5 separate regions of the Homo sapiens genome follow, and all the other regions are linked to region 4. Evidence: fine-mapped QTL for protein levels in blood plasma. A gene starts in region 4. Each other region holds a variant in brackets. All regions are shown on one strand. Distances are from middle to middle.

Region 1 (6,057 bases), 62 kb after region 4:
AGTGCCTTTTTGGTTTCTTTTTCTTTGAACACACATGTGTAAAAACTACAGGAACATTTATAGACTCACAAATTTCCCGGAGTTTGACAAATCTTCAGTACCAAATCACAGAAGTCATCTGCTTGAGTCAAGTATATGGATTCTATTTATTCTTCTCAGCCAGAATGGAAACTTTCTATTTCATAAATTTTTTTAGGAAAGGAAAAAAGTTATTCCCTAACTATGCATCCCAAAAGCTTACTTCTTCTAAATCTATCCTCCCATCAAAACTAATCTGACGGTTTTGATCCCCTGAGTAAAAGCTGTCAGTGGTTCCCCAGAAGCTACCTGTTGTTAAATTCTTTTAATGCTGTGGTAAGTTGGATGATTGGCCCCTGTTCTTCACCCCTCACTGTATCATACCCTCTGCCTCTTTGCTGCGGTATTCCTACCACAAAAGCAAAGTGTACTCACTCACCCCTTGACACTGGGCTGTGCCTTGTGACTTGATTTGGCCGTTGGGTTAACAGCTGACTTGGCACAAGCAGGGGCTTCCCTTGTGCTTGTGCAGTTGGGAGAGCTCCCTCATCCTTCTGCCACTGCCATGGGAAGGACATTCTGCAGTAGCAGCTGGTCCTGCATGAAGGTTGAAGGACACATGGAGGAGAGTCATCCTGGCTTATCCACTAATATGCAAACAAGACATAATTACTGAGTTTTGTGTGCCAGTGACATTTGAGATTGTTTGCTATGCAGTGACCTTAGACTGTTAGAAATTCTTTGCAGCACTTTCCAGGGTCTTGTCTCTTCTGATCCTTTGCTTCCCCTCTCCCCACTGGTGATTTTTCCGCAGTGACTCCCACAGGCTGGTGGCTCCTGAGCATGCCTCATCAGCTCATGTTGTTTCCCTGCCAGCCTGCATTCCTGCTGTGATTTTCCTGAGCCTTGAGTCCCCCTACTCCTTTCAGAGAAGATGATAACCACAGGGCTTAGGGGATTGGCTTTGCGTGTCAAATGGCCCTTCACGGTAGACACAGACCTAAGCTTCGGGCACATAACTGCTCCAACCTCAGTGCTCTTATCTGGAAAATATGGGCAATAATATCTCATAGGGTTTTTATGAAGATTATGTGTATTTAAATCACTGGTTGCTCTAGTTTAACGTGCTTAATAAGATTTGCGAATGTTAAGTGTTTTTACGTAAGATCCATGTAAAGGTCATCTTATCTTGACAATTACTTCTTCCGTTTTCCACTTTCCTGTATCCTTTCTCTCCAAATGTAGAAATCTTTGTACTGCATTGGGATTGGTGTGAGACCTTAAACACCGTAAGGCAGGAATATATTTCTTATTCTATGCTGGTTGGCACAGAGTAGGGGTTATGTCTTTCTTGTATTGAATTGAACTTTGCACTTGGATTATTGTCTCCTGGGGGGCCCTACCAGCAGATCGAAATTTCCTAGAGCAAATTCCATTACTTGTGTTCCATTTCAAGCCTCCCTCCCTCCTTACCTCTGACTGTGCATTCTGTTTACTTCTTATAACCAGGAACATTAATCATTTTTGTATGTTTTCCTCCAATGGGACATGATGGACATGATTATTCATATGCAGGAGTAAACAAACCCAGCTTGTTTCCTTCTGGGAACCAATAAACATAGAAGCTATTAATTTAGACTGGAGAACAGGAGTTTAAAAAGCTTTTCCCTTTTTAATGATGCATTCCCTGTAATTCTATAGTATTACATTCGGGAAGTAACATGAGAGTTTTCTTGTGGCTAATTTAACACCTGTTCTTGTATGGACAGGTCTTTGAATTTATTTTTAAATGCTGTTTTTTTTTTTTTTTTTTTTTTGCTTTTATACCATCAGTGCATTTGTCTTATTGCATTTCTACTGAAGAAAAGATAAGATTAAATATCTTTCACAAGAATTAAACAAAACCAAATTAAATGTAAGTTCTAGGTAGTGCTGTATCATTTAAACACTTTCATGAATACTGGATTGAGAACTGAATGAGCATCATCATTGATACACATAGTACTTCTGACAATTTTTGCAATCTTTTGGTACCTGTTTCTCTGTACAAATTATGAAGAAACAATTGAATTTTTTATAGCTTTTTGACATCTCAGAAGCGAATAGGTTTTAGGGATTTAAATTTCTGCGGAAGGAAGCATGGTGTATACAGTAGGAAAGAGTCCCCATTTAAAAGCCAAAGAAAAGTGCACCTGGGGAATTTGCTCATTAATTGTGTGAGAAAAATGTAAAAACATCTCCTCTGAGCCTTTTCTCAACCACAAGATGGAAATAATAATATGCTCGTCACAAACTGATTGTGGGACTAAATATAAAATTTTCTAAACATATCGGGTTCCTTCATTTGAATATTTGTTTGTTGAGAAACATGATAGAACTTACTTATCTGTGACTGGAGGGACAGATGCACCTGGGATTGCTGCCTTCAGCTTAGGTCAAATTGTGTCCGGAATTGGTGGGTTCTTGGTCTCAAGTGCTGGGTTCTTGGTCTCACTGACTTCAAGAATGAAGCCGCCAACCCTCGCGGTGAGTGTTACAGTTCTTAAAGGTGGCGTGTCCGGAGTTTGTTCCTTCTGATGTTCGGATGTGTTCCGAGTTTCTTCCTTCTGGTGGGTTTGTGGTCTGGCTGGCTCAGGAGTGAAGCTGCAGACCTTCACGGTGAGTGTTACAGCTCATAAAGGCAGTGTGGACCCAAAGAGTGACAGCGGCAAGACTTTTTGCAAAGAGCGAAAGAACAAAGCTTCCACAGTGCGGAAGGGGATCCGAGGGGGTTGCCACTGCTAGCTCGGGCAGCCTGCTTTTATTCTCTTATCTGGCCCCACCCTCATCCTGCTGATTGGTCCATTTTACAGAGAGCCGAGTGGTCTGTTTTGACAGGGCACTGATTGGTGCGTTTACAATCCCTGAGCTGGACACAAAGGTTCTCCACATCCCCACTACAGTAGCTAGATACAGAGTGTCCACACAAAGGTTCTCCAAGTCCCCACCAGAGTAGCTAGATACAGAGTGTCCACACAAAGGTTCTCCAAGTCCCCACCAGAGTAGCTAGATACAGTGTGGATTTGTGCATTCACAAACCCTGAGCTAGACACAGGGTGCTGATTGGTGTGTTCACAAACCTTGAGCTAGATACATAGTGCCCATTGGTGTATTTACAATCCCTTAGCTAGACATAAAGGTTCTCCAAGTCCCCACCAGACTCAGGAGCCCAGCTGGCTTCACCCAGTGGATCCCACACTGGGGCTGCAGGTGGAGCTGCCTGCCAGTCCCGCGCTGTGCACCCGCACTCCTCAGCCCTTGGGTGGGTGGTCGATGGGACTGGGCACCGTGGAGCAGGGGGCGGCACTCA[T/C]TGGGGAGGCTGGGGCAGCACAGGAGCCCACGGAGGGTGGGGGAGGCTCAGGCATGGTGGGCTGCAGGTCCTGAGCCCTGCCCCGCGGGAAGGCAGCTAAGGCCCAGCGAGACATCTAGCGCAGTGCTGGTCGGCCAGCACTGCTGGGGGACCCAGCACACCCTCTGCAGCCACTGGCCCGGTTGCTAAGCCCCTCATTGCCTGGGGCCGGCAGAGCTGGCCGGCCGCTCCAAGTGCGGGCCCGTGGAGCCCACAGCCACCCAGAACTCATGCTGGCCCGCAAGCCCCACCCGCAGCCCCGGTTCCCGCCAGCACCTCTCCCTCCACACCTACCCACAAGCTGAGGGAGCCAGCTCTGGCCGCGGCCAGCCCAGGAAGGGGCTCCCACAGTGCAGCGGCAGGCTGAAGGGCTCCTCAAGTGCCATCAAAGTGGGAGCCCAGGCAGAGGAGGCACCTAGAGCGAGCGAGGGCTGTGAGGGCTGCCAGCACGCTGTCACCTCTCAAAATTAAATATTTTTCATTCACTATGTTACCTTGAGGAAGTCACTTAACTTTGTAACCTCAGGTTGGTCAGCTATAAAGAAAGTCAGTTATAAAACAAACTTTAAAGAGTTGAGTAGGAAATACGTCAGATGGTATAATTATCAATTAAATTAATAGCATTCCTTTTTTTGCACAGCTTTATTTAGATACAATTTATACACTGTAAAGTTCACCTGTGTAAAGTGTATGATACTATTGATACAAAATTGTGAAATCATCACCATAATCTAATTTTAGAACATTTTCATTACTCGGTAAAAGTATTTTATTTTTCTTCTAGCAAAGCATTGAATACCAGTTTGTCCACATCCTTGCTAACCCTTGTTTTTCTGTTTATCTACTTTAGTCATTCTAGTAGGGATGAGGTGCGATCTCATTGAGGCTTTGATTTGCATCATCTCAATGTCTAATGAGGATGAATATCTTTTTAGGTGCTTATTGGCCATTTGTATATCTTTTGGAGAAATGTCTATTCAAACACTTGTCTTCTTAATTCAACATTTGTCATCCTGCCCTGCCTTTTTCATACGCTGTTAAATGGCATTTATCACAGGTTACTAAAATTCCCTGACTCTAGTTTAACTGTGGCTTGGTGAAATAGAGTAGGGTTTGGAAGTTAGGCACATATATTCTTGATTCTATGTTGTTTGCAAATCACCTGACATTTTCTGAGCCTCAGTTTCTTTTTCTGTAAACATAAATAATAATACTTTTCTTACAAAGAGAATGATTAGATGAGATAATGTATGTAAAGGGGATACACACACACACACACACACACACACACACCCACACACACATATGCACAAGGCCCTGAACATAGAAGGAGATAAATAAATGGTTGTTCATTTTTCTTTCTCTTTCTTACTTGGGCCATGGGGTATAAATATAGAAAAAAAAAATCATAACAATTATTGGGCAACTTTCAGTTTCCCTTCTGTTCTGTTGAAACTTAGGAGTGCTTCATAGCACCCCACCAGTCTGGCACTGGGTAAACTCCAGGACAGTGCGGGACATTAATTGTAGGGCTGGAATCAAGAGAACACAATGGAGCGACAGGGCAGATCTATCCCAGACACCTCCAGGTTCAGGATGGAAAGGTGTGTAGTGTAGTCAGTGTTCTTGGTTGTAAATTGAAACAGAAAATACATGTATTCAGTAGGTATTGGGAGTTTTCAGGGTCCTCTTGAGGTGTTGTGGTCCAGGCTGGGAGAATGGCCAGGACTAGAACCCGGGAAGTCAGGCAGCTGAGGTAGTGCCTGGCTGGGATGGCACCACTGGCATGACCACACCATTTATGCTCTGCAGCCACTCCCTAGAATCTCCACCTGCCCTGGGCCTCTGCCTCACTCCCCTACCCCTGTGTTCATAGTCTTGGCTATGTCTGGAGTGAGATGGTGACTGGGCCCAGGTTACCTCCCATCTCCTGGCTGCTTAATGTGGGAGGGATGATCTGCTCTCTGATGGCTTCCTTAGGAAAAGGTGGGGAACTGCCTCTGCCAAGGGCAAACAATGAGAGGCTCCTCAGACAAGAAAAGGGTTCATTTCCTAGGAGTCCCCTAATGACAAATAACTAGTGAAGGATCCTAGGTTTTTGGTCTGTTTGTCAGGTGGGCAGGTGAAGAAATGAGTGAATGATTATATCCCCCTACAGATACTTGCAAAAGTGAATATTCGCTATGTAAGGCAATCAAGGTATTTGGCTTCCTTAGACTTGTACATCTAATAGCATACACCTGACATGTTTATATTCTTTTTACTTTGTCATGGCTTTTCTTTTCTTAGGGTCCACTGAAAAGAGAAATTTCAGTGACTAAGAGAAGCGACTTCCAATTCCCTCATTTGTGTAGGTTCTGGTTTTCCAGGAGATAGTGCACTAACAGGTTGGTATCAGAGCCTTCCCCAGGCTACATCCCCACCTCTCCTGCCATCATCTCCTGCCTGGCTGCCTGTCTCTCATCCTGTGCTTTCTGTCTTCAATAGAGTGGCCAGAATGACCTGCCAGCCCATTGCTCCAAAGGCCACGCTATGGGCTCTGCCCCCACCATCCCTTTCCCCACTTCTCCCTGGCTAATGTCAACTTAATTATCCAGGACCCAGCTCAGACATCACCTCCTGCTTTCTCCTAACTCTAGTTGCTTATCCAT
Region 2 (6,558 bases), 28 kb after region 4:
TTCCAACAACACTAGTAATAGGCCTTCCCGAATTTCCAGACTCAACACTCTTAAAGAATCACATTCCATCCAGTGCACTATAGTAATCAACATGTTTTACCCATTACAGTAATACTCCAGTTGACAGAATCAAAGCCACAACCCTCTCAGTGGGCCCAAGATGCAAAATTGCAGCCTGATGGGGTGATTCACCTGCTCCTCTGTCCCATAATCCTCCTGTCACCCGCTGGAGGCCACAGGTCCTTCTGGTGTCCTTCTTTGCTTATATGCCCTTGATGGAGGATGGTAGATGAAAGAGGGAGGTGGTGAAGAAGAGGGCATTTGGGGAACCTCTCTAATTTCAAGTTACTTTAAGACCTGGAATGCAAAAGTTGTTAGAATGAACATCTTGCCTTTTGACTGAACTAAGGGCAAAACTGGGCAGCCTTTCCTCCATAAGTATTCTGTTGTAGCGGTTTGTTTTTTAGAGTCCCTTTTCTTTTCTTTCTTTCTTTCTTTCTTTCTTTCTTTCTTTCTTTCTTTCTTTCTTTCTTTCTTTCTTTTTTTTTTTTTTTGAGACAGGGTCTTGCTCTGTCACCCAGGCTGGAGTGCAGTGGCACCATCTCAGCTCACTGCAAGCTCCACCTCCCAGGTGCATGCCATTCTCCTGCCTCAGCCTCCCAAGTAGCTGGGACTGCAGGTGTCCGCCACCATGCCCGGCTAATTTTTTCTATTTTTAGTAGAGACGGGGTTTCACCATGTTAGCTAGGATAGTCTCGATCTTCTGACCTCGTGATCCGCCTGCCTCAGCCTCCCAAAGTGCTGGGATTACAGGCGTGAGCCACCGCGCCTGGCCTAGAGTCCCTTTTCAGACTGGAGAAGTTCTCTTCAATTTTTAATTTGCTTTGCATTTTTATCATGAATATATGTTTAATTTAATCGGGTGTTCTATCTGTATCCATGAGATGATCCATTTTCTCTTCTTTAGTCTATTAATAAGATGAATTACATTGACTGACTTTCAGATTTCGAGCCAGCCAAACATACTTGATCATGACATATTAGCATTTTTACATATTGCTGGATTTTATTTGTAAGAATTTTTGAGGATTTATGCATCTATGTGCACAAATGCTATTGTTCTGTGGTTTTCTTATAGTATCCATTGTCTTTCATACTTTGAATGAGTTTGCATAGATTCGGTATGATAGTCATCCACCACATAAGGACATACTGGTCAATGATGGACTGTCGTATACACTATGGTGTCCCCATAAGATTATAATGGAGCTGACAAATTCCTATCGTCTAGTGGCATCATAGCCCTCATAATGTAGCATTACTCATGTGTTTGTAGTGATACTGATGTAAGCAAACCTACTGCACTGCCAGTTGTATAAAAGTATACCAAATACCATTAAGTAAATTACCTAATACTTGATAATCATAATAAATGACTATGTTAACTGGTTTATGCATTTACTATACAACACTTTTAATCATTATTTTACAGTTTACTCCTTCTACTTATAAAAAAACAGCCTAATCAGGTCCTTCAGGAGGCATCCAGAAGTAGGCATTGTTTTCATAGATGACAGCTCCCTGCCTGTCATTGCCCCTGAAGGGCTTCCAGTGAGACAAGATGTGGAGGTGGAAGATGTGATACTGATGCTCCTGACTCTGTGTAGGCCTAGACTAATGAGTGTGTTTGTTTCTGATAGAGTTTGTATATTTGCCCCCGCCTAAATCTCATGTAAATGTCATGTTGAATTGTCATCTTCAGTGCTGGAGGTGGGGCCTGGTGGGAGGTGCTTGGATCATGGAGGCGGGTTTCTTATGAATGGTTTAGTGCCATCCTCTTGGTGCTGTCCTGGTAATAGTGAGTGACTTCTGAGATCTGGCTGTTTACAAGTGCATGGTGCCTACTCCCACCTTACACTTGCTCCCATTCTCCTTATGTAATGTGCCTGCTTCAGCCATGAGTAAAAGCTTCCTGAGGCCTCCTTGGAGGTAGATGCCACTATGCTTCCTGTACAGCCTGCAGAACCATAAGCCAATTAAACCTCTTTTCTTATAAATTACCCAGCCTCAGATATTTCTTTATAACAATGCAAGAATGGCCTAACACAGTGTCTTAGTTAACAAAAAAGTTAGAAAAAATTAAAAAATAGAAAAAGCTTGCAGAATAAGGATATAAAGAAAGAAGAAGATATTTTTATATAGCTGTGCAATGTGTTTTGAGCTGTTATTATAAAAGAGGCACAAAGTTTAAAGTTAAAAAGTTTATAAAGTAAAAAAGTTAAGGTAAGCTAAAATTAATTTATTATTGAAGAAAGAAAAATATGTTATACATTCAGAATAGCCTAGGTGTACATTGTCTGTGAGGTCTACAGCAATAAACTGTAATGTCCCAGGCCTTCACATTCATTCACCACTCAGTCACTGGCTCACCCAGAGCAACCTTCAGTCCTGTAAAATCCATTCATAGTAAGTGCCCTATATAGGTGTACCATTTTTTATATTTTATATTTATATATTTTTATATTTGATATAAATTTTTATAAATTATATATATATTTTTATAAAATATATATAAAATTCTATACATTTATATATAATATATATAAGTTATTTTATATATATTATATATACATATATAATATATAAATATATATAAAATTTTGTATATATTTATATATATGATATATATAAATTTTATATATTTTTAATATATTTTTTATATTTTATATTTAAATATTTAAATATTTATATATTTTATATTTTAAACATTATCTTTACTGTTCCTTCTCTATGTTTAGGTATGTTTGGAAACATAAATACTTACCATTGTGTTACACTTGCCTATAGTATTCCATACAGTAAAATGCTGTACAGGTTTATAACCTAGAAGCAATAGGCCATATCCTATAGCCTAACTGTGTAGTAAGCTATACCTTCTAGATTTATATGTGCATTCTATGATGTT[C/T]ACGAAATGATGAAATTGTCTACTGACACATTTTTCAGAACAGTGTCCCCCATCATTAAGCAACACATGACTGTATTTTGTTCTTAAATATGTGTTAGAATGGGACAGTAAAGGCATTTGTTTCTGGAGTTCCTTTGCTGGAAGTCTGTTAATTATTAATTAATTAATTTAAATAGATATAAAGAAATTCAGGTTATCTATTTGTTCTTGACAGAGTATGGCAGTCGGTTCCTTTAAAAATATTTAATTTCATTTAAACAGTTGAATTCATGAGTGTGGCATTTATAGTTTTATTATTAGTCTAATGTGTGTAGTCTGTAGTGATGTCACTACCTGTTCCTGATGTTTATAATTTTTTTCTTCCCTACTTTTTAGGTGGGCACTCTGATTAGAGGTTTTACAATTTTAGTTTATTAAAGAATCAGTTTTTTGTTTTATTGATTTTTCTCCATTGCTTTTCTATTTCAGTGTAATTGATTTCTGTGCTTATCTTTATTTTTCTTCCTCCTGTCTGCTTTGGATTTGATTTGTTATTCATTTTCCAGTTTTTCAAAGTGAAAAGTTAGAGAACTGATTTACTTTTCTTCTTTTGTGATATAAACATTTGATGCTATCAATTTTTCTTTAAGCACTGGTTTTGTATCCCACAAATTTCAATGCGTTGTGATTTTGTTTTCATTAAACTTAAGGTATTTCCTATTATCTTGTGTAACTGCTTCTTTGTGCTATGGGTTATGTAAAAGTATTTTTCAAATATTTGGATATTCCTATGTATATATTTTTCTGTTCATTTCTACTTTTTTCTTACTATGGTCCAAGAACATTGTTAGTATAATTTTAATATTTTGTATTTGTTAAAGGTTGTTTTTTGGCCAAGAATAAATTCTATTCTGGTGATCATTTCATGTGCACTTAAAAAATATGTATTTGCTGTTGTTGGAAGTGTTCTGTGCTTCTAATTCATCAAGTAGATAAAATTGGTTGATACTGTTGTTCAAGTCATCTATATATTCATGTATTTTCTGTCTATTTGTTTTACTAGTTACTAAGAAAGGAGTATTAAAGTCTGTAACTGCAACTGTGGATTTCTTTATCTATTTTTTCAGTTCATGTACATTGAAGCACCACTGTTAGGAGGAAAATTATGCAATGACCCTCCTGATCTCTGGCAATGCTACTTGTTTCAATGTCTATTTTCTCTGATAATTTGTATAGGTGCTTTAGCTTTCTTTTGATTTATATAGTAATCTTTTTATATCTTTAAACTTTTAATTCATTTATATATTTAGATTTAAAAGTGAGTGTTTTTTATATATAATATATTTAGGTTTTATTATTTCATCTGCTTTTATGGTCTCTGTCTTTTAAATGGAATATTTAGACCACTTATATTCTATATAGTTTTGATATAGTTGAATTATGATTTATTTTGCTAATTATTTTAAAATTTGTTACATCTCTTCACTTTATCATTTTGTACTTTTACTCTTTGCCTTAATTCAGTATATTTTCAATGATGCTCTTTTGCTTCTACTACTGGGTTATCATTTAGTGCTTTTAAAAAATGATTTTTAGTTATTTCTCCAGGGTTTAGGATATACATTTTGAATTAACTATATCCAATCATCAAATATTATATAATTTCCTATAGTGTAAAGAGCTCCCAACTGAATTCCCCATTTCTTTCTCCCAGTTTTTCTGATATCTTTCTGTATACTCTATATTTACATATACTATAACACACAATGCATTTTTACTCTAGCGGTTTTACACAAGTAATTACATTTTAGAACAATTAAAAATTTAAAAAAAGATTGAGTATTTACCACCATTTATATCACTTCTTGCACTCTTTATTTCTTTGTTTAGATCCAAGTTTCTATATGATATTCTATTCTTTTGTTCTGAATAATTTATTTTACCATTTCTTGGAGTGCAAGTCAGCTGTTAATGGATTTCCTAAGCTTTTGGTTGTCTGAAAAACTCTTTCATATTTTTTTAGAAAGATTTTCACTAGGTGTAGAATTCTAGGTTCATTGTTTTTGCAATTAGCACTTTAATAATATCATTTCATGTTCTCTCACTTTAAACGTTCTGATGATAAGTCTGCCGTCAAGATATTCTCGTTATCTTTAGTTTATGCCAGTTTGTATATCACTTATTTAGGAGTGTTTTGTTTGTTTACTTATTTGTGTTTATCTTGTTTAATATTTTCTGAGCTTCTGTCATATGTGATTTTGTGTCTCTTATGCTTTTTGACAATTCTCAATTATTATCCCTTTAAATATGTCTTTTGCCCCATTCTCTTTCTCTCTCTTTTATGACTCCAATCATATACACATACATGATAGCTTGATATTGTTCCTTACCTCTTGAATACTCTAGTCTGTATTATTTTTTCCCCCTGTTTTATTCTCTTTGTATTTCAGTTTGGATAATTTCTTTTGAAGTATCTTCAGTTTTACTGAGTCTTTACCCTGTCAATTTTACAGATGTGCCTGTTGAATCCATGTATTTTTCATTTTTGCTTCAATGTTAAGGTTTATTTCTGGCATTTCTGGTTAATTCTTTTTGGTAGTTTCCATGTGTCTTCTAAAATTCCCCATCCGTCCACGCATGTGTCTACCCTTTCCATGCAATCTTTTGACCTATTATAGTAGTTACTTTATTTCTTTGATCATTTCTACTTCTGGGTCATATATGTTTCCCTTTATTTTCTCTTTTTAGGAATTTATCTTATTTTTTTGCTTCTCTATGTGTCTCTTAATTTTTGGTTGAAAGCTAGGCATCCTATGTGGGACAGAAGAGATGGAAGTAAATAGTATTTGTGGCACAAACTGAGCATGCCTTCTGTTTTGCTAGGCTTTTAGTATGAGGCATTTAGTCTATGTAGTCAGGAATTGAGCTGGGTTTGGGGTTTATTGTTACTATGATTACCCTCAGTTCACCCCGGACTGTTTGATTTCTCTATATTACTTTGAGTTTAGGGTGGGGGCTAGGTTGCCAGGGGATTTTTCTTCATAATCCTGATCTACCACCAGCTTTCATCTTTCAATGTATGCCTACATCTTAGAGAGGACCAGTTTTTGTTATGTGTTTTGTACTTCACTCTCCTGGCTTTGGAATCCTCTTATTTGTGACTTGTTGCTTGCTAGCCTGGTGGGACATGGACAGAGGTGCTTTCTTCTATCCTGGCCTAGCCTTCATATTAGGCAATGCTTAGTCCCTGGTTTCTCTGTGATTTTTCTTCCACTGTGTTAGGGGGGTTTCTACTAGTCTGGGCCCAAGATTTTTTCAGCCTCTACTCTAGGTTTTTTCTTCTTGTTCCCTTTTCATAGCTGCAGTGGGTCTTCATCTATGTTCTGAGGATGACAGAGTTTGCTGCCCTTCCCCCAGCAGCTTAAGACTTTTGTTCTGCAGAGAAGGTGGGGACAAGGCTTTAGGTGGAACTCTGTGTCTTTCGTGCAGCAGCTACTGCTCTTCCCCGCAGGCCTGCAGCATGAGGCAGGCTTTCTTCTGTTTCTTGCTCTACCCCTCATTTTCTGTGAGTTTCTAGTGAAATTTCCAGAGAAGAGCCTGTGAGTGGGTAAAAA
Region 3 (6,558 bases), 55 kb after region 4:
ATATTGCCCATTTCTGGCATGCTTCACTGTGTTTCTTAGTCTTCTTAGCATTTTCATAACCTGAGTAACCAACTCCCTGAATTCAGTTCTCTTCATTTCGAGTACTTAAGGTGGCTTCTGGTTTCCTGGTTGGGCCCTAACTGACAGGGCTGGGTTCATGGGTGTGTAACCTAGGCAATTGCTCAGGGACCTGGCCTAGGAAGGGCTCGTGCTTGCTTTACTGCTCAGCTATTGCAGTATTGAAAAAAGAACCTTCAATTTCATTTTGCACTAGGCCTCATAGATTGTGCAGCTATTCTTGCTGATGAACACACTTGGAAAATCTTAGAATTGCTTGCTGTAATAGAACACGTCTAGAAGGGGTTTGTTCTTGACAGGTCACTTGCCAAGGCCTCTAGACATGGGATGGGTTGTTCACTCTGACATGTAGACAGAAGGGTCACCTAAAGCTTCTGTTAAGGACAGAAGCAATGAAAGTGACCAGGAAAGTGTCATAGAGCATAATGACTGAGGTGGTGAGGTCAGATTATAAACAAGATTGTAAATAACAGAGTGAGAAGCTGGAAGAATGGGCAATTGCTTGCTATGGGTGTCAGTGGTTTTGCTAGACCATGAGCAATGCAAGAATATTGCTAGACCATGAGCAATGCAAGGATACTGCAGATCCAGTGTTCATGGTGTTGAACGTCTTAAAATTCACACATTTTTTGCTCAGCCTATTTTCTTTTCTAGAGACACTATAGTATGAAAGACTTGGGTTTTTTCACACATATATTAATGCTGTTATTGGCTCGTCTGAGAAATATGTACAGTTTCTTCAATCTGTAGCCCAGCAGGCCAAGAAGTTCCAAAATAATGTTTGTACCTATACCAGGAATGAGTCCTTAAAAAAAATCAATCTTCTGCAATTGAGCCAGAAGAAGTCCAGCACTGCTGTCGTCTCCAAAGACAACATATTCTGAACCTAGAGCTCCTGCCTCCATCATCTTGATCCATTCACTCTATGAAGGAGATTTCTATCCAGAACATTATGAGGCTTACAAACCTTCAATGGAGAGAAGAAATTCAAGTCTTAGTGTCTAATAGCTATGGCACAGATGTTTGTCCCCTCCAAATCTCATGTTGAAATTTGATCTCCAGGGTAGGTGTTGGAGACTTAGGGACAGATTTGTCATGAATGGCTTGGTGCCATCTTCACAAAATGAGTTATCAACTATCAGGTCCGTTAGCTCTTGTGAGAGCTGGTTGTTAAATAGGGCCTTTCACCCCACTCCCTCTCTCTTGCTTCCTCTCTTGACATGTGATCTCTCAGCATGCCAGCTCCCCTTCACCTTCTACCATGAGTGGAAGCAGCCTGAGGCCCTCACTGACACAGATGCTGGCACCATGCTTCTTGTACAGCCTGCAGAACTGTGAGCCAAAGAAACATCTTTTCTCCATAAATTACCCAGCCTTAGATATTCCTTTATAAAACACAATCAGACTAAGACACTAATTTATAATGAAAATAATTGCCAACATTCATATAAGGCATGATATATTTCAGGTACCATGATAAACATGTTCCTTTTGTTGTCTTCATAAAAATTTCATGAGGTAAGACTATTGATATGCCCCTTTCACTGTTGAGAAAACTGAGGATCAGAGAATTTAAATAGTTTGTGCAAGGTTCCATAGACAGTAAATGTTGGAGTTGAGATTCCCACCCAGGCAGTATGCCTGCAGAAACAATTTCCTTAGCTAAGGGACTTAGTCCCTTGTTCGATGTAAAATGTAATTCTGGCCCAATTAACATAATTGTTTTTACTGAATATGGCTAAGAAGGTTAACATTATGGGATTAATTGCTTGGTTAATACAAACTCTTTATTTTAACCCCTGACCCACCACATGAGGAGCTCAGACCCTTCTCCTTACTCCTGTATCACCCTAGGTAGTACCCCACTGTTGCATTGCTTAGAACACTGGGTTTGTCCGTCTGCTAATCAGCCTGCCCTCTTCTTCAGTCCTGGGTCTCTTGAAGACAACAGTGTTGTAAATCTGATACCAGCCTTTAGAACAATGTCTAACACATAAAATCACGTCACACACATCAACTGAAAAGGTGGCTGAAAGACTATGTATAATTCTAGACTGGAATTTGGAGATCAAAAATGAGGTTCTGTCCCACTGCTCTCCTGAAGTTTGACTTCTGCCAGCCTCACCTTCTGTGCCCTCTGTCTTCACAACTGTTGACCACCCTCTTTGCAGTCTCCTCATTCCTAATGGTTGGCATTTTTTTAATGACAGTAGCTAAAAGGAGATTATTGTCTAGCTTAGATCTTTTTTTTTCCTTTGTTACTTTATTTTTTCTCTTCATTCTTGATTCCTCCAGAAATCAAAAACATCATAGGGAAGATTTAGGGAATCTTTAAAGCCTTTCCAAGCAACATAGTAACAGCATACTTCTAAGAAAGTTAAGTTCTGTCTTCAGGTAAGCCAGGGAATTTGAAGAGTTGAGTAGAGATACTTCGTTGATTCTGGGGAATCTAGATTTTTGGCAATCTTCCATACTCCCCACCCCTGCTTCCCTTTATTTCTCACATTTCTCATCTCAACCCCTGTCAAGTTACCATTTTCTTGACTGAAAAAGATTTGGGAGCCAGGAAAAAATACCATTCCTGTTTAGGAGTGTATTTTTTATTTCCACCTTCAAAGCTGTTTTTATAGTTTTTGCTTTTTCTCATTCCCCTCCAGCCCAGCTCCTGGGATGAGATGATTCCACAGAAACTGTTTCCTCATTTGCTGTGCCTTCTGAATCATAGGGTGATGTGATTAGTCACTCGTGAAAAAGGCCAAACTAAATCAAATTCGTATTCTGATCATGTGGAATCATTTCTCATGTACGAGGGCTGTAAGGTAGTATTGTGTAATGAAGCAAAACAAACAAACCCTCCTATGAAATATAATAAAAATCCTGACCGGCTCTGGTTAAATCCCAGGACATTCTTTAGATATGGAATCTCAGAAAAGTTTCTTTTTCTTTCTGAATCTTCTTTCTTTTTCCTGTAAAATGGAGGCACTATTGAATTGTGTCATTATTTAATTAAAACCTCCACCACCACCGTTCGCCTGGGTAAAGTATCTCTAATAGTGTCTAGCAAATACTAGGTGTTCCAGCCGTGCTAATGTGCTTGCCAGTTGTCTACATTAGAAATGAGACATCAAAAATTCACATAGTATAAGCACTTCATCCTTTTCCAGTATCCTAAACAGCTAGCTGTTCTGCCTTTGCTTGAAACTTCCAGTAATGAGTAACCCTCTGTCCCCCATGGCAGTCTATTCTTTTTTTTTTCATAAACCTATAACATAATCGCTTATTATTGTCAAGTATTATGTACTGTACATAATTGTATGTGCTATTCTTTTTTATTTATTTGTTTATTTTATTATACTTTAAGTTATAATAAATCTGCACAACATGCAGATTTGATACATATGTATACCTGTGCCATGTTGGTTTGCTGCAGCCATCAACTCATCATTTACATATTTCTTCTAATGCTATCCCTCCCCCAGCTCCCCACCTCCTGACAGGCACCAGTGTGTGATGTTCCCCGCCCTGTGTCCAAGTGATCTCATTGTTCAATTCCCACCTATGAGTAA[G/T]AACATGTGGTGTTTGGTTTTCTGTCCTTGTGACAGTTTGCTCAGAATGATGGTTTCCAGCTGGATCCATGTCCCTGCAAAGGACATGAACTCATCTTTTTATGGCTGCATAGTATTCCATGGTGTATATGTGCCACATATTCTTAATCCAGTCTATCATTGAGGGACATATGGGTTCGTTCCAAGTGTTTGCTATTGTGAATAGTGCCACAATAAACATATGTGTGCATGTGTCTTTATAGTAGCATGATTTATAATCCTTTGGGTATATACCCAGTAATGGGATTGCTGGGTCTAAGTCATAATAGTAGAGAGATCTTTTTTAGCATGAACTGAATAGACAGAGTAGCATTGGCCAGAGATTGCAGGCATGTGCCTCAGCCTCCTGTTTTCATACCCTGATGGCCCAGGGTAAAGTCTTGATGTTTCTGTTTACGTCACCCACCATCCCTGAAAAAGGAAAGATTATAAACTCTCTTATGCCTGAGAGTTTTGTAATAAAGTTTGAAACAGGCAAGAGATTAAATTAGCCTCATAAATCATGAAGCACAAGTTATAGCTGTGAAACAAGTTAATGGTTAAGAAGAACGTAGCTAGAATTTTGGTTTTTGTTTGACTGTTTTAACATTTCCTTTCCTACTTCTTTCTAAGAAAGACCAGTGTGGCTGTCAAAGTCTGAGATAGTACGCAAGGATCCCTGCCTCTTGGGGCTCACATACTTTGGTTAGATTTTCCTCTTGAGCATGGACTTTTATCCAATAGAATAAGGCCAAAAGAGATGTTATCTCCATGACTGAAGTTGGTACACTTGTAATGTGTGTCTTTCTAGAAGACTTTATGGTTCTATTAGATGATGGTTCCCAAACTAATTGGCTTGCTTGTAATCACTCAGGAGAACAGAGCATCTTTTGAATTTGTCCTTGGTTTGGTGCAAGGCCCACATACACAGGCACTGTACTATGGAGGCTGTGTTTGCAAGTGTGGCCTTGGGCCTGCCATGCCTTCCTACAGGCCTACCTGCACCTGCCACCTGCCCTGAGCCACAGCTTCACTGTGATGCCCTCTCATTAGTTTCCTCCTGTCTCCAGCTTTGGCACCACAGTTTATTGAGGCTTTTGTGGCTATCTTTTTTGTTGTTGTTTTTTGAGACGAGTTTCGTTCTTGTTGCCCAGGCTGGAGTACAATGGTGCAATCTCAGCTCACTGCAACCCCCACCTCCCAGGTTCAAGTGATTCTCCTGCCTCAGCCTCCCAAGTAGCTGGGATTACAGGCACCCACCACCACACCTGGCTAGTTTTTTGTATTTTTAGTAGAGACGGGGTTTCACTATGTTGGTCAGGCTGGTCTCGAACTCCTGACCTCAAGTGATCCACCTGCCTCAGCCTCCTAAAGTTTTGTGACTATCTTACTGCTCTACCTGCAGGCTCCTGGCACATTCCTTGACTTCCTGTTGAACATATCTTGGACACACTATGCATGCGTTAGATCCCCTTGGCCTGCTACCCTAAAGCCCTCTAGCAATGTGCCACATGGGCAGCCTCCAGTGGTCCTGGCCCAGGGTTGCCTGTATCTAATCCCTTTCTTGTGTCCTTTATTGTAGGTCTAGGTGTGAGAAACTTAAAAATAGTTTTTTCAAATAGGTACAAGGAAGAAAAAAAAAAAAAACAACTAGTTCTCCGCACCTACCAAACTAGTGGAGGAAATTTTATCCTTGTTAGTTTTCATTCTGCTATCTTTGTCACTGCTTCTTAGGTCGGTTGAGATGCTGGCATTCAATAAATTTGCTAATCATCCTGGCTTTTGTCCACTTGAAAAAATGATAAACATATTGCCCAAATATTCACATCCATAATACTTTTTTAGGACAAATCTGAACAACATATTGTGTTTTTCTCCAATGTAGTTTAAAAATTTGACATATTTTTCCCACATAGTTTTAAAGCATATACAACTAGAAGATTTGCCTTAACATTTAATGCAAGAGCTTGGGAGAAATATAAGACTCTTGTGCTTAAGAAATTACATCCAAATTACATCCAAATACACTGATTCTGCTTCTTTATGCTTAATGGATGATTAGGTGTTTTAGGCTTTAATTTTGGAAGGAATATAAAAGGTTATAGCATACACAGCATGAAAATGTATGTGACAAAATCTTTGCCAGATGTGAGCTGCATTTATTAGCATGGACTCTTCTTAAGCATAATACGAATCTAATGCCAAGTTTATGTTTACCTAAACTGATGATGTTCTGGATGGAGATGCTTAATCTACTCTATTACAAGAAGGGGGTGAAGCAGAAAAGTAGATGTGTGGCCTCTCCCTTCTTTCTCCCCTCCTTCTTCCTCAATGCCCTGCAAGAAGAAGCCAGGGATCTCACATCATACAGTCAGCGGCTTCTTAACCTGTCTCAGGGTATGTGAAGATGGATGGCAATTAAGAACATTCATCTGACTGGGCTAGAAACATGTCTCCACAGCACTGATCAGGGCTCCCAGCTTCTTTATTGCAGGTCATGAGGTAGTAATAACTTTCAGTCTTCACAGTGCAGAGCTATATACAAACTGAACAAGGAGAAAACGCTGTAGCTTTTTAAAAACCTATTCCTTGAGTCACTGATTCTTAAGAAACAATCCAATTTTCTTCCTGATTGTTGTGTTTTCAAAAGGATTGATAGTGGCTCATGCCTATGTGGAGAAGCCTTCGATGTGTCGCAACTGTGTGCCCACTTTAACAAGGTGGTGCCACACAATAGTAATATTCATGGTTCCCACATATTGAAAGGCATGATGCCTACTATACTCTTTCTTTAGAACCCACAACTTCCTTATTATGTAGGTATTAGTATTTTTCTCTTAAAAGCAAAAAAATAAAAAATAAAAAAAAGGAAGCTCAGAAGAGATACATGTTCCAA
Region 4 (6,558 bases):
GCACGTTCCATAACGCCCTCTGCAGGTGGGAAAAGGACAGCTATGGCCTGGTAAGTCAATGGGCTAAGTCCAGGCAGGCCATAGGTTGAACCTACCTTGAGGTGTTTGGAATAACTGAACACCTGTGCAGGTCTCTCTCAGGCCCCTAGCCCACTGGCAGAGATTTTACCTAGAGCCTGTGCATGCATGCTGTGCAGCACCTTCACCCAAACTAAAGCCCCAGTGGAGCTGGGCTTTTGGTTCAAGTAGAGTATAAGGGTTAAAAACCTAAGCTATGGAGTAGAACTGCTTAGTTTGACATATGAATCTGTTTCTTAATAGCTGTTCTGCCTTCAACACATTATTTAAATATTCTGTGTCTGTTTCCTCTTCTCCATAACATGGAGACAATGGATAATAATCCACCTCCTAGCATGGGATGAGATTTAACTAACGTACATGAAAACCAGCGGGATCCTGACGCACAGTAGGCATTAGAGAGATGGCCGGTATTATTAACATTACTACTACTCATCTGAAACAAAACAATTTTTAACCATTAACTGCACTTGTTGGTTTCACCATCCACTATGATTTGGCACCCAGTGAGCAAATATTTTCTTTTTCTTTTAATTTTTAGAACATTTGCATGATACCCTAAACACATAATCTAGGGAAATGGCTTTTTATATGAATAGTCTCCCTTAATTAGCTATTAGTTGAAGAATATATCCCAAATGGTACCGTAAATTACCCTGTGTTTGAAAGCAGGTTAAGAATTTCACCGACAACATTCCCAAATTAGGAGCAGTACATTAATGTTGAAAGTCCCTCCGATACCTGTTGGGATCCTTCCCTTCAGTGCCATAGGCTTCATCCTCATGAAGCCCTTTTAAAGTGAACACCGAAGGAATCCCTATGGATTGGCCACAGTGCTCTGGGAAGGATTACCTCTGCCCTGAAAAAGAGAGGTCATGTCAAAGGGACGTGAGCACAGTGCTCTCCACCTCTCAGAACCAGAGAGCACCTCTTCTTCAAAGTGGGGGACCACAGAACCAAAGCTGTTCCACCCCTTCCTGGAAGGTGCAAAGTCGCCCGGCGGGCGTTCGCATCTTACCACGAACTCCTCCAAAGTCTGATAGGTCTTGCCCCGGAACTCGCAGTAGTTCTTCCTCTCCTTGCACTGCGGGCAGCACTGGCTCGTGTCGACGTGGATGCAGCGCGGGTGCAGCCTCGGGCACTCGGGCTGCGCGCACAGCGGCCCCTCCTCGGTGCACAGGCACGGGCAGGCCGAGGGGCCCGGCGCGAACTTCTCCCCGATCGCGTACACGAAGCCGCTCTCGTCCACGCAGCCCTTGCCACGGTAGTCCGGGTACACGTACTCCTCGGGTGGCTCGGGCGTGGGCGCGAGTTCCGGGCCAATCGCGTCCTGGGCGGCTGCGGCCAGGGCTTCCGCCTGCGGGGTGTCCCCGCGGGGCCGGACCTGCAGATCCCCGGCCTTGGCGCCCCCGCCCTGGGAGACCCAGGCCTGCTTCAGCTTGCTCCACGGCTCACGGCCGGCGAGCCCACGGCCGCTCTTGCTCTTCCAGTCCCGGCCGCTGCCGCCCTCGTCCCTCGCCGGGCGCCCGAGCTCGTTCACCCGCCCCGGGCCGTCCCGAGAGGCGTGCTCACGCTTCTCCTGGCCCGGCTGCTCTGGTGCCTGGGCCAGCTTCTCCAGCGGGATGCTCGGACTGCACAGAGCCACCATCAGGCAGCAGGTGACCAGGAGGGAACTGGAGAGCGCGCCAACTGCCATCGCAGTGGAGCTGGGCATCCCCTACCACGTCCCGGCGGGCGGGCGGGCGGGGAGCGCGGCCGAGGGGCGAGTCGCATTCACAGCCCGGGGGCGCGCCGCCGCCAGCCGGGAGCCGCCGTCCCTGCGGAGAGAACAGCAGCACAACTGAGCCCCGCGGCCCGCGCGCGCCCCGGCCCGCCGCGGCCCCCACCCGGGCTCCGGCATAGCTCTAGATTAACGAGCTGGGCGACGGGGGCGGGGGCAGCATGCCCAGCGTCGGTGCACGGCCGGGGTTCTTAGACATCACAAACTGTGGAGCGATACATTGGAAGCGAAATCCAAGAACGACACCGGCCGGCGTGTTTCTGATGTAGTCGTGATTAGTGTTGGAGATGGCCAAGGGCGGCTTGCGGAGCCCAGGGAACGCAGCGAGCCAGGCCCGCGCCCCCCTGCAAAGCTCTGCCTTGAACCACGTAATTCAGGCACCCAGGGTGTCCCTCCCTAGGTCCTGGCCACATTTCCCGAAGGTTATTAAATGGAGAATTCAGCAGTGGAGTTAGAGACGGACGAATGTACAGGAAGATAAGAGGGAAACTCTTCCTCATTTGCTTTAGGGGGTTGTGCTGGGAAAATGCGGGGAGGTTAAACAAAGCTTCTCCTAGGACTCCACGATTCATTTCTAACAACTTCTTAAAAGACTCCCGTCTCGGGAGCAGACGCCCCCTCCCCGCTCTCTAAGCCCCGCTGCATGAAAGGATGCCCTCGGCCCCTTGCCAGAGGGCCGGGTCGGGGATTCCCGGGGCTTCAGCTCCTCTGCCGGCCCGCCCCTCCGAGCCTTGGGAGCCAGGTCGCCGGCCGCAGCGCTCAGTCTTGTAGTGTCCTGGCTGCGGAGCAGAAGCGCCCGGGCAGCACCAAGGTGTGCAGTGCGGGAGGCTGGGGCCCCAGGGCGCAGAGTGGGCGCGAGACCCTCCTACTCGCTGGATCCCGGCCAGCCTTTCTGGATTCCAAAGTTTCTGCCGCCCAAAGGGGCTGGGAGAGCCCGAGACGCCGCAGGACACCGGCAATCCAGCCTCTCTCCGCCTCACTCCCCGAACGCCCCCACTCTGCGCACTCCGGTGCGTCTGTCCCCTCCCCCTCAGCCCTCCTCCCTGAGGGCTCCGGACGTGCCCGGCCCTGCTGACCCCCTGCCCGGTCCCTGCCGACCTCAACACTGGGCGAAGCGCCCATATTCACAAACTTGGGCGGGGGAGGGGGTTCCTCCGGAGCAGCTGAGCGGCTGAACCCAGCTGGAGCGCGTCCGGCCGCGCGGGGACACCCAGCATGCACCCTCAGCCCTGAAGACCGGCGCCAAACCTACATACATGAGCGCAGGGCGCGGGCCGGACGCCGGGCTCGCAGCGGGCGCAGGGGTAGCAGCGGCGGGCGCGGGCCCGGGTTGCCAGCGCCCATCCTGGGCCGGCCGGCGACCCGCGTGGGGCGGACCACTAACAGCCCAGCCCCACCTGCGCGCTCCGCCTGGCGCGCACACCGGGCTAGGGCGTCTCTGGGGAGTCGCTCATCGCGCTGTCAGCTGCCGGTAGTCGCGGCCCCAACTCGCGTCAGTGCCCGCGTCGCCCTCAGTCGCTCATCCTCCGGCCTCGTCCCCGCTTCTCCGAGACCAAGCGCGCCCCGGGGGCCACCCTGGCGCCGCCTCGCTCCTCTCCGCGGAGGGGTTCGGGGAGCTCTCCAGACCCGGCAGCCGGAATGTCTGGGCAGCCGTGGCGCGTCGGAGGGAAAAGAGAAGCCCGGAGCGCGGCCGGCGCGCGAGTGGCACCGAGGCCAGCATGGGAGCTAGCGCGCCCGCCTCCCGCCTCCCCCTGCCGCAGCCGCCTCCGCCCGGCTCCCGTTCCGCTCCCTCCTCTGCTGCCCCCGCTCTGGAGGCCCCGCCTTGGCCCGCGCTGCCCCGGGGGAGGCCCTCGCGCTGCCCCCGGAGAGGCCCTACCGCCGCACCCGCTCCCTTTGCTGCGCCGGACCAACCTGTCACTCGTCCGCGCGGCCGCGTCCCCACCTCCGCAGCCGGCCGCAGACCCTGCCAGGGCTGCCATTCTCCAGTCGAGTCATTCACTTTGCGCTGGACCTTTCATCTTGGCTTTTCTCTTTTCTTTAATTTCTTCCTTCCTAATTGGCCCCCTCTGGCTTTCCTCTTTGTGGACAGCTTGTTTCAGCTACTGTGTTCAGATTGGGATTCGAAGGCCGTGTTAGTTTAGCAGACTGTTGAGACTTTCTCGTCTTTGCATTCAGAAACCCAGAGAAATAGACGTTTACGAGTAAGAAACGTAAAAATCTCAAGCGCGAACTTTCTGAATCTCTGCCAATCTCTCCCCGCTCCCATCTTCCTCTTTCTGCCTGCTCTCTCTTCTACTACAAATAGAAACCTGTTTCCTAACTTTGCTAGAATCCTCAACTGTTAAGCAGAGGCCCGGTTGTTTTTACTCTTTGATCTTGTGTAAACGAGAAAACGTCAATAGTACCTGTTCAAATTAATCCCCGAAATTGAATTTTCATGGAAATGGCCCATGGCAGTGGTTCCCACTCACGGCATTTTAGAATCCCTGAAAGTGCTCGGACGGTAAACAGATAAGCTTCCCTGCAAGGTCAGGCGCTCTGGCTGGTGGGAACTGGGGAGGCTGGTTTGGGACACAGTTATGTCTATCTTTTAATAGTATAGACAAACAAATCTTAGCTGAGGTGCTAGGGAGCCCTCCTTGAAAGCCTGAGAAGGCTGCCCCTCCACCCCCTCCAACACATACACAACCAACAGGGCTGGATGGAGGATTTCTTTCTCTCTCTCTCTCTCTTTTTTTTTTTTTTCAGACGGAGTCTCGCTCTGTGGCCTAGCCTGGAGCGCAGTGGCGCGATCTCCACTTACTGCAAGCTCGATTCCCGGGTTCATGCCTTTCTGCCGCCTCAGCCTCCTGAGTAGCTGGGACTACAGTCGTCCGCCATCACCCCCAGCTAATTTTGTTTTTGTATTTTTAGTGAGACGGGGTTTCACCATGTTGGACATGATGGTCTCGATCTCCGGACCTCGTGATCCTCCTGCCTCGGTCTCCCAAAATGCTGGTGAGCCACCGCGCCTGGCCTGGATGGAGGATTTCTATGTACAGGATGATTTGAGCCCTTCTGCTGTTTCAGTTCTCACTCTCATTTTTCCTTTTTTTTTTTTTTTTAATGTTTTAGAGACACGATCTCACTTTGTCACCCAGGCTTCAGTGCAGTGGCATGATCACGGCCCACTGCAGCCTCAAACTCCTGCCTCAGACTCCGGAGGAGCTGGGTGTACAGGTCACCACACAGGGCTAATTTTTTGTTTGTTTGTTTTGTTTTGTTTCGTTTAGGTTTTTTCTTTTGTTTTTTTTTTGTTTTTTTTTTTTGGTAGAGATGGGATCTTGCTTTGTTGCCCAGGCTTGTCTTGAACTCCTGGCCTCAAATGATCCACCCGGCCTCTCAAAGTGCTGGGATTACAGGTGTGAGCCACCACACTCGGCCCTTTCGTTTCTTGTTACCCTCAGAAAAGAGACAGGCCACATTTGCTGTGGCTGCAGCTGCCTACCCACCCACCTGCCTCTCATCACATGCTCTAATCAGTTATGGCTTCTGTGTCTTTATGATGCTCTAATCCAAATATCACACCTTTCACAACACCACCAAAATAAAAACACGGCTCGAGGTGTGATCATATGTAATGTGCAAAATGGGCCCTCGGTTCTATAAAATCAAGTGCTTTTATAGCATTGGTTAGGCTACAAATTTTGTTATTTGACTTATTAGCTAATTCTGTTCTTGTCATTAAACATCCTGTTTGTTTTGTTTTGCCAACAGTACTCTCATGTGGTTACGATGGGGTAGCCCCAAACACATGTGACTAATAAGAACGAAACAGTAACATTATGTGTCCAGGATTCTAACTGAAAAATTGATTGGGGGCTCAGCTGAGGAAATAATGATGTCCCTTTATTAATCCCACCTCAATCACCGGTCTCTCTGAATCAGAAACTTCTTGTCCCAGCCAGCTGCTTCCAGTAGAGAGCCATGAATATGAGATAGCCAAGTTTTCAAGAAGAGGCCTGACAAAACTGAGGATGAATTAAGTGACCAAGTGTCCAAATGGCTTTGTTCTGTTAGATATTCTCAGAGATAGTGTTACAGGCCTGATAGAATGAGGGAGGAAAGCAGTTTCCAAGGGATTGCTGTCCTTTGTGAAGAAGAGCAATACCCATGCAGCTTGATGAGCTGAGTAATTCGAGAAAATATAGGGGACTTTGCAGGCGTTGAAGGAATATACAATTTATTTATTGCCAGTGCAATGAATTGTTGCGATTAACTTTTCTTCTTTCCTTCCTTCTTTGTTCCTTTCTTTCCTTCCTTCCTTCCCTTTGCCCTCCTTCTCCCCTTTCTCCCTCCCTCCTCCGTCTCTCTCCTTTTCCTCTTTCTCTCCCTCATTTCTTTCCTTCTTTCCTTTATTCCCTCCCTCCCTCTTTCCTTTCTTCCTTTCCACTTATTTTCCTTTTCCTTGCTTTCCTTTCCCTTCTCTTCCCATCCCCCCTTTTTCCCTTCCCTTCCCTTCACTTCCCTCCCCTCCCCCTCCCCTCCCTTCCCCTCCCCTCCCCTCCCTTCCCCTCCCCTCCCCTCCCTTCCTCTCTCCTTCCCTTCCCTTTCCCTTCTCTTTCTCTCCACTTCCCCTTGTTCTTCCCCTTCCCTTTTGCTTTTCCCTTCCTCTTTACTTTTCCATCCTTTCCTTTTTTCCAGGCTAGAGTGCAAGGCAG
Region 5 (6,558 bases), 69 kb after region 4:
TCACTACTTGAGAAGTGTTCACAAATCACAATAATTAATACTTACTTGCACTCGATATTACCTATCTACAAGGCAATTTAAATTTATTAACTAAGTCAGCTAATTGGTAAACAAGTATAAACCATTGCCACGGTTATAGAGAGTAGGAAATTGAGATGTGGAGGCACTAAGTGATTTATTTAAGCCATTCAGCAAATGAACTGCAGAGAGGGAGTTTGCATTAGTCTGTTGTTGGCTCTCAGCCCCATATCTAGACAACTGGCACAGCCCAAGCCACACAAGCAACAGGGGGCAATTAGTTATTCAAATCAGGTAATTACAGACATAAATACTCATTGTCTCATGCCATGTCTGCTGGCCTGAGAAGGCCCATTTAGAGCCAGGTCTTGAAGGACTATGTTAACAAACTCAGCAGGACTTTGTGGCTCAACATCAATAGGAGAATAGACTATTAAGTTAGTGACTCTTGTCTACCACTGCGTTGCGTGAGGAATATCTGTGCTCTCAAATTCAGTATTGTCCTTAGTGAACTTCTCTTGTCATTTTTATACCAAATGATTTATCTCTTTGAGAAAAATAAGCAAATTCATCATGTAATTGGTAATTCAAATAAAACATTTTTTAAGATCTTCCTTTGTGGGCATTTGGGAAAAAGGTAAAGAAGACTCAGGTTCCTTCCTTATGAGAATTATCAAAAAGTGCTGCTGTGTTCCAGGTGTTTTTGCATGTGTGAAAATCTCTTATTTTCCTAGGAGAGCTCTGGGGGTTGCTACTTTTCTTATTTATAAATAGAGTCCAGAACAGATAAGCACATCTGCCCAGAATCAAAGGTAGAAATGAATTCTTGAAAATTTAGGCTTAGGTTTGTGTGATTTCAGATCTCATATATATTATAAGGTATATCAGGAATACAGGAAAGTGCACAGATCAAAAGTGATACATTTTCACCGACTGAAAACACTTAAGTAACCAACATCAGATTAAATCTTCCTAACAATGAAAGTTATAGTTTCAGGCACTTGTTAGGAGATAGTCCACTCTTCTAGAGATCACACACTTTTACTCACAGTTGTAAAGTGAAAGTGAGGACATACAGGCCAAGGAAATGACAAAGCCAACATTTGCTGCAGTAGAGCCTTGTGTGTGCACCTCTGGCTTGGTCTGAGCTGGGGTCACATGCTACCTTCACTTTCCTCTTCCACTGCTCCACACTGTTGGAGGCTCCCAGCTGCACTCAGGAGGTAACTAAGGCTTGGGGCACATTCTAATCTTCTTGAGTTCTCCAGAAAGCCAGCTACTTACTTATCCATGATGGACACAGGGGAAGAAATTACCCTGCATTTAGGAGATTTGGACATTGTTTGTTGGTAAAATACTTTCTGCTATGTCGTGGCCGCTTGTCAAGACCCAAGGCTACAAGAGCATAGACAAGGCATTAGGAGACATAGAAGGTAAAGAAAAAGAAAAACAGAGAAACTCTAAAATACAGAAAGTCTCTTCAGACATATTCATTCTACTATCTAGAGGCTGTGGGGTTCAATCAGCATGAAACACCACCTTTGCTGTAGCTGGTTTTTAATGCAGACAGTGGTGTGAAATATAGGGACATGACGCATAGTGCCTATTCTGTGATCAGCCCTCTCTGGGCTTCAGTCTCCACAAAACCTACAGTTTTGGATAAGATAATTTCTTCCCTGACTTTCAGCCCTAACGTGATCGTGTCTTGTTTAGTGAGGATGCACTGTAACAGGAATGTGGAGGATGGCAAAGACCCCTGATATAGCAGGGTCAAGAACATGGATTCTGGGGCCACTCATGCCTGTGCACAGATCCTGCCTCCAGAACTTCCTGGCCGTGCATTGTGAAGCAAATTGTTTAGACTTTCTGCGCATATCTTTTTTCATTTGTAACATAAGGACAGCAATAATAACTTCCGTAAAATATTTCTGTGGGAATTAAAAGAACTAACAAATCAGTCAGAGCAATGTCTGGCGTCTAACAAGCCCTCTCTAACAGTCTGAATTAGTGCTGGGCTCATGGATCATGTTCTCTAAGTCACCTGAGGGCAGGATTGGGACATTGTGGTTCACTGCCGGGCTCCTAGGACTTGGCATGGTGTCAGTACTTGGCAGGCACTAGTTGAATGGCTGAATCATTTTTTTAAGGAATGATATGTAGACCAGGGCTTCGTGCTAGGGCTCTGTTAACATTTCTACCATGACCCCATTGTCATCTTTGTTTATTCCTTTGAGCAGAATTTTATAGTTTTTTTTTTTATGTCTCTTATCCTAACATAGGAGAAACCCTAGATTGCTGTTCTCCAATGAAATGCAGGCATGACCTCTTGGTAAGTAGAATCCTGAACATCTGATCTAATTTCTTAGCCATATGTGGGTAGCTCTATGCTCCCTTGCTCTATCTGGCATCTGTGAATGAGAATGCCTTCCCATATTACACTGTAGAAAAGGAGGAGGGCAGGTGGTTGGTGTGAGAAATGAGAGAATAAGCGGCTGTTAAGAAGGGGTTGCACTGACCAGTGGGGAAGGAAGGAGTGTTTTGTAGCTCTGAGCATCTCTTTGCAACATTTGCTTTTGGTGTGGAGGTCACATCTGTGGCTCTAAAAAGGATGCTGGGGGTTGGATTAAAAGTGGAGACTGGGAGGGGCTTTTCAGTACTCCTGACTGTGGGCTGTTCTGGTCTTAGTGAGACCTGGAGTGAATCTGATGGGTGTTCTGGGAATAAAGTCAAAAACATAAAGTCTAGAAAGCAATCAAATTTAAATAAAATTATGACCACCCAGAAATAAATATAAGGAGTTAAATATGACTCTCAGTGAGAACATCAGACCACTT[C/G]ATCTCTCACAGTGGAGAGCAGATCATCTCCTTTGATATTTCCTTTGCAGATTAATTTTTTGTTATTAAGAAGATAAATAGTACACAATCAACACTTCAATCTGGATAACATTGAAGGCAGCCGATTAATTTAAAATGAGAGAACTGCTCTCAGATGAACTTACCCTGCAAGAAGAGACTCATGTATCATGAAGAGAGAATCAGATTAAAATGGGCAAGGTTTGTAATAAAACTAAAATATCAGATGTCTGGGAATTTAGCCAGGAAGATGCTCCTAGCTTCAGTTTTTCCTGAGGAGAAAATACAATTATCGGGTATCCTGTAGTAGGTGTTTCTGTTAGGTAGGGCCCTATTCATTGATGAGAATGGTAGTTTTTCAAATAGAGATGTATTTGTATTTATTTGTGAAGTTTTAAAATTCATTATCTTGTGTGTACATGTAGCATGTTTGCTAGTTTTTTGCGGGACTATTTACATAGTGCAGGCTTGATAGGGCTAAATAAAACATTCTAAAAGTGTGTGAGATGATAACTAACACTGTATTGACCAATCACAGTCAGGACTAATATTACAGGTACCATCTTCTATATTTGAGGGATTAGGTATTGGTGTTTTATTTTTTATTTTATTTTAAGAAAACAACTAAAGAGAACAGGTATTACTCATATAAAACAGTCACATTGATAGACTGAATATTCATTATAAGGTGACAATCTCTCTATGGAATGTGTTGACAGGATATGCTATAATCTAAAAGCTCATGTTTATTCTCCTCTTCACTAATAATAATGTATCCACCATTCCAAAGATGAACACCTCTAATTTGTTTATGTGTTCCTTTGTCTACACCACCCACACATGGCATTTTATTTATTTATTTATATATATATCATCCAGGCTGGAGTGCGGTGGCGCAACCTTGGCTCATTGCAACCTCCACCTCCCAGGCTCAAGCGATTTTTGTGCCTCAGCCTCCCAAGTAGCTGGAACTAGAGATGTGTGCCACCATGCCTGGCTAAATTTTGTAGTTTTAGTAGACAGGGTTTCACCATGTGAGCCAGGCTAGTCTGAACTTCTGGTCTCAAGCAATCCACCCACCTTGGGCCTCCCAAAGTGCTGGAATTACAGATGTGAGCCATTCATTTTGTATAAGTATAATCATACTGTAAAGAGCCTTTTATATCAAAACATACCCATTTAAATTAAATCATTAGTAAATTCCATAATACTATGCATTTGGAATGCCTTTTTGGTAGGAAGTAATGAAGTGAGTAATAAAACATAGTGTAATTAAGGTTTCCTCTGTTATGGGACTTTTCCCCTTAAGTATTCTCTTTTACAATGCAGTGTCATCTCACCAGTGGCAAGTCTAGTTTTGTAGATGGGTTTACTTTGGAACCAGTCAGAAGTCGTTCGTACTCATATCTGGCATATAAAGAGGCTTGTGGTTTTTTTCCCCCCACAACTTAAGCAAATTCTTTAAACATTACAGGGCAGTCAGATGGGTGGCCTTCTCTGGAAGCACAGTCACTGGTCATCTAGCAGCAGACCTGCCGTGGAACTTTCTCCAGGTGTCCACTGGGATGACACTGAGTGAGAAGGATGTAGCATCAGAATAAAAGTGATAGAACCAGGAAATGTTGAAAGAGGAGACTTGACCGGTGAGGGAATATAGAGGAAGTTGTATTTTCCTTCATCAAATTGATGCCATTCCCGTCACTGTGTATGCCAGTCACGTGTTCTTAGGTGGGAAGACCCACCAGCCATTTAGGAGAGACGCCACCTAACCTAGACCAATCAGGTAATATGGGCCCCAGCCTTAGTGATGGGTCAGGAGAAGGGTTCGTGTCTTGAGATGATCCACGCACAGTGAAGTTGAACATGTTTTTATAATAGCTATGAGAAGAGACATATAGTTTCCCCCAGATGTGAAGCTTGAAGCCCTGTTACTACTGATAGCCTCTGTCTTGGGACAAAGGCAGCACATGTGGGTGGCAGGAGGAATTGCAGGGAAACAGCTGGAGCTCTTATGGCCTCCAGCAGACAGGGCAGGAAGCCTGCAGACCTCCAGACTGCTCAATCACTCAGCCGATAAAGCTCCCTTCTGATCTAAGATAGTTGTTACTTTTTTGTTTCTTCCGATTGAAAAGATTGTAGTGATACAGAAATGCTAGGTCATGCTGGCCTAAGGAGGAGAGATTATCTGAAGAAAAATAATGGTAAGGAGAGAGAGTCACCAGGATGGAAAAGACCAGCGAGCAGAAGTCACAGAAAAACAGACGGGATCTATATGTGAAAGGGAAGCGAAAATGGTGAGAATACTCTGTGGGGCTGGTTTTGCTGTCCCTTGTAAATAACTGAAGTTCAGACCAGTTAATTTTTGAATCCAATGTAAAGCATTGATTAAGTGATGAAGGCAGGAACTGAGCCCAGATCTGGCCAATTCCATGCTTTTTCTACTAAACATTTGCCTCGTTACCATTCACAGACAGCCCAGTGCCCAGCTGTAAGGGAAGATGTAGATGCTACTTCTGCAATAGGTGGGTTTACAAATTAGATATTCTGGAAGGACACGCTCTTTCACAGCCAACATTCAATGTGCGTAACCAGAAACAAAGAAAGTTGAAATTCAGCTGTTTAGGGGACTGGTTCAGGTGGGCATTGGGAACTTTGTACATGTGTGCAAACATGGGTGTATAAACACCTTCCTAAGGATGACTGTAAGGCACAAGCATTAGACCTAAGGCAGCACAGAGTTGATAAATACTTCAGTGGGGGAAGAAGTCCCAGGATTTTGTATTCTTCTATCATTGAATATTCTAGAGCTGGGTGGACTCCTTTACATCAACCATTCAGTGGGACAGAATATTTTGGATATTGATTTAATTCTGGAAATAGATGATAGCATGTCATCTGCAGCCCCAGCATCTGGGCAGCAGGTGTTCTGTAAAGTGCTTGCCAAGTGAAGACACAAGGGAATTCTTGTGAGAAAATCATTCACTCTGCTGACTTCCACCTGTAGCGGGGTTCACTCTAGGGACTAAAAGTCAAATGCATTTTTCCAGGAAAAAAGAACTTTATTGCATGTTTCTGTTGTACTATCATTTTTGACATACAATCCTTGATTTAGATGGACTCATTATGGAGGATTGAGAAATTTCAGTTGGTGGGTTATTCATGAGTCAAGGATCACAGAGACATATGGATGGTGACTGAATTCTGTAGGGGTTCAGCTACATAAACTTGAGTTATTTGTATGTATGATTAAAGGGAAGGAAAAGGAACCAAGAGTAATTTAGCATTTTTAGTGTGCCAGTCACAGTGCAAGAGGATTTATAACCATTACCTCATTTTGTCCTCACAATAATCTCATGAAGAAAGCAATGTCGCTGCCATTTTCTAGACAAGGAAAACGGGCTTTTGAGAGGACAAATAACACAGCTGAAGAAACGACATGTTGGATTTAATCCCATGTTTCTGGTTTCAAAGCTACTGCTTATCCCTCTTATGTTAGAGAAATCTAAGGTTTATGTCTGGTTCCTGAGATTCCAAAACCTGTACTCTTTGGTTAAGAAATTGAAATAAAAATATACAATAGAAGAGAATGATGCACTAATATGATACTGCACTTTGGTTAAGTGGAGTTTATATTATTGTTAAAATATTCGTAATACTAAACCCTTAACATTTAAAAAATCCATCCCAA

Direction of the effects. Positions count from the first base shown, and alleles are read on the strand shown. Strength reflects both the effect of a copy and how common the allele is.
As copies of C replace T in region 1, the plasma level of the protein whose gene starts at base 3,590 in region 4 goes down (strong association).
With allele T in place of C in region 2, the plasma level of the protein whose gene starts at base 3,590 in region 4 is lower (moderate association).
With allele G in place of T in region 3, the plasma level of the protein whose gene starts at base 3,590 in region 4 is lower (moderate association).
For the plasma level of the protein whose gene starts at base 3,590 in region 4, allele G in region 5 goes with a lower level than allele C (moderate association).

What was found. PIP is the chance, under the fine-mapping model, that this variant and not a neighbour inherited with it causes the effect. Protein levels are from antibody-based Olink assays in UK Biobank. Linkage for the fine-mapping came from a reference panel and not from the study's own genotypes, which makes the PIPs less certain.
Region 1: its variant is fine-mapped to the plasma level of the VWC2 protein (UK Biobank, PIP above 0.99).
Region 2: its variant is fine-mapped to the plasma level of the VWC2 protein (UK Biobank, PIP above 0.99).
Region 3: its variant is fine-mapped to the plasma level of the VWC2 protein (UK Biobank, PIP above 0.99).
Region 5: its variant is fine-mapped to the plasma level of the VWC2 protein (UK Biobank, PIP above 0.99).

Annotation. Positions count from the first base shown.
Region 1 is chr7:49,708,886-49,714,942 of GRCh38, reverse strand. No RefSeq gene overlaps it. Among named protein-coding and RNA genes, the nearest start is that of VWC2, 62 kb to the left of the region's middle. The variant T/C (reference allele first, on the strand shown) is at 3,368.
Region 2 is chr7:49,742,748-49,749,305 of GRCh38, reverse strand. No RefSeq gene overlaps it. Among named protein-coding and RNA genes, the nearest start is that of VWC2, 28 kb to the left of the region's middle. The variant C/T (reference allele first, on the strand shown) is at 2,966.
Region 3 is chr7:49,715,249-49,721,806 of GRCh38, reverse strand. No RefSeq gene overlaps it. Among named protein-coding and RNA genes, the nearest start is that of VWC2, 55 kb to the left of the region's middle. The variant G/T (reference allele first, on the strand shown) is at 3,645.
Region 4 is chr7:49,770,670-49,777,227 of GRCh38, reverse strand. It overlaps VWC2 (von Willebrand factor C domain containing 2), which reads right to left and starts at 3,590. Exons shown (of 4, transcript NM_198570.5): 1 at 3,115-3,590; 2 at 1,097-1,895. The coding sequence starts at 1,792.
Region 5 is chr7:49,701,832-49,708,389 of GRCh38, reverse strand. No RefSeq gene overlaps it. Among named protein-coding and RNA genes, the nearest start is that of VWC2, 69 kb to the left of the region's middle. The variant C/G (reference allele first, on the strand shown) is at 2,853.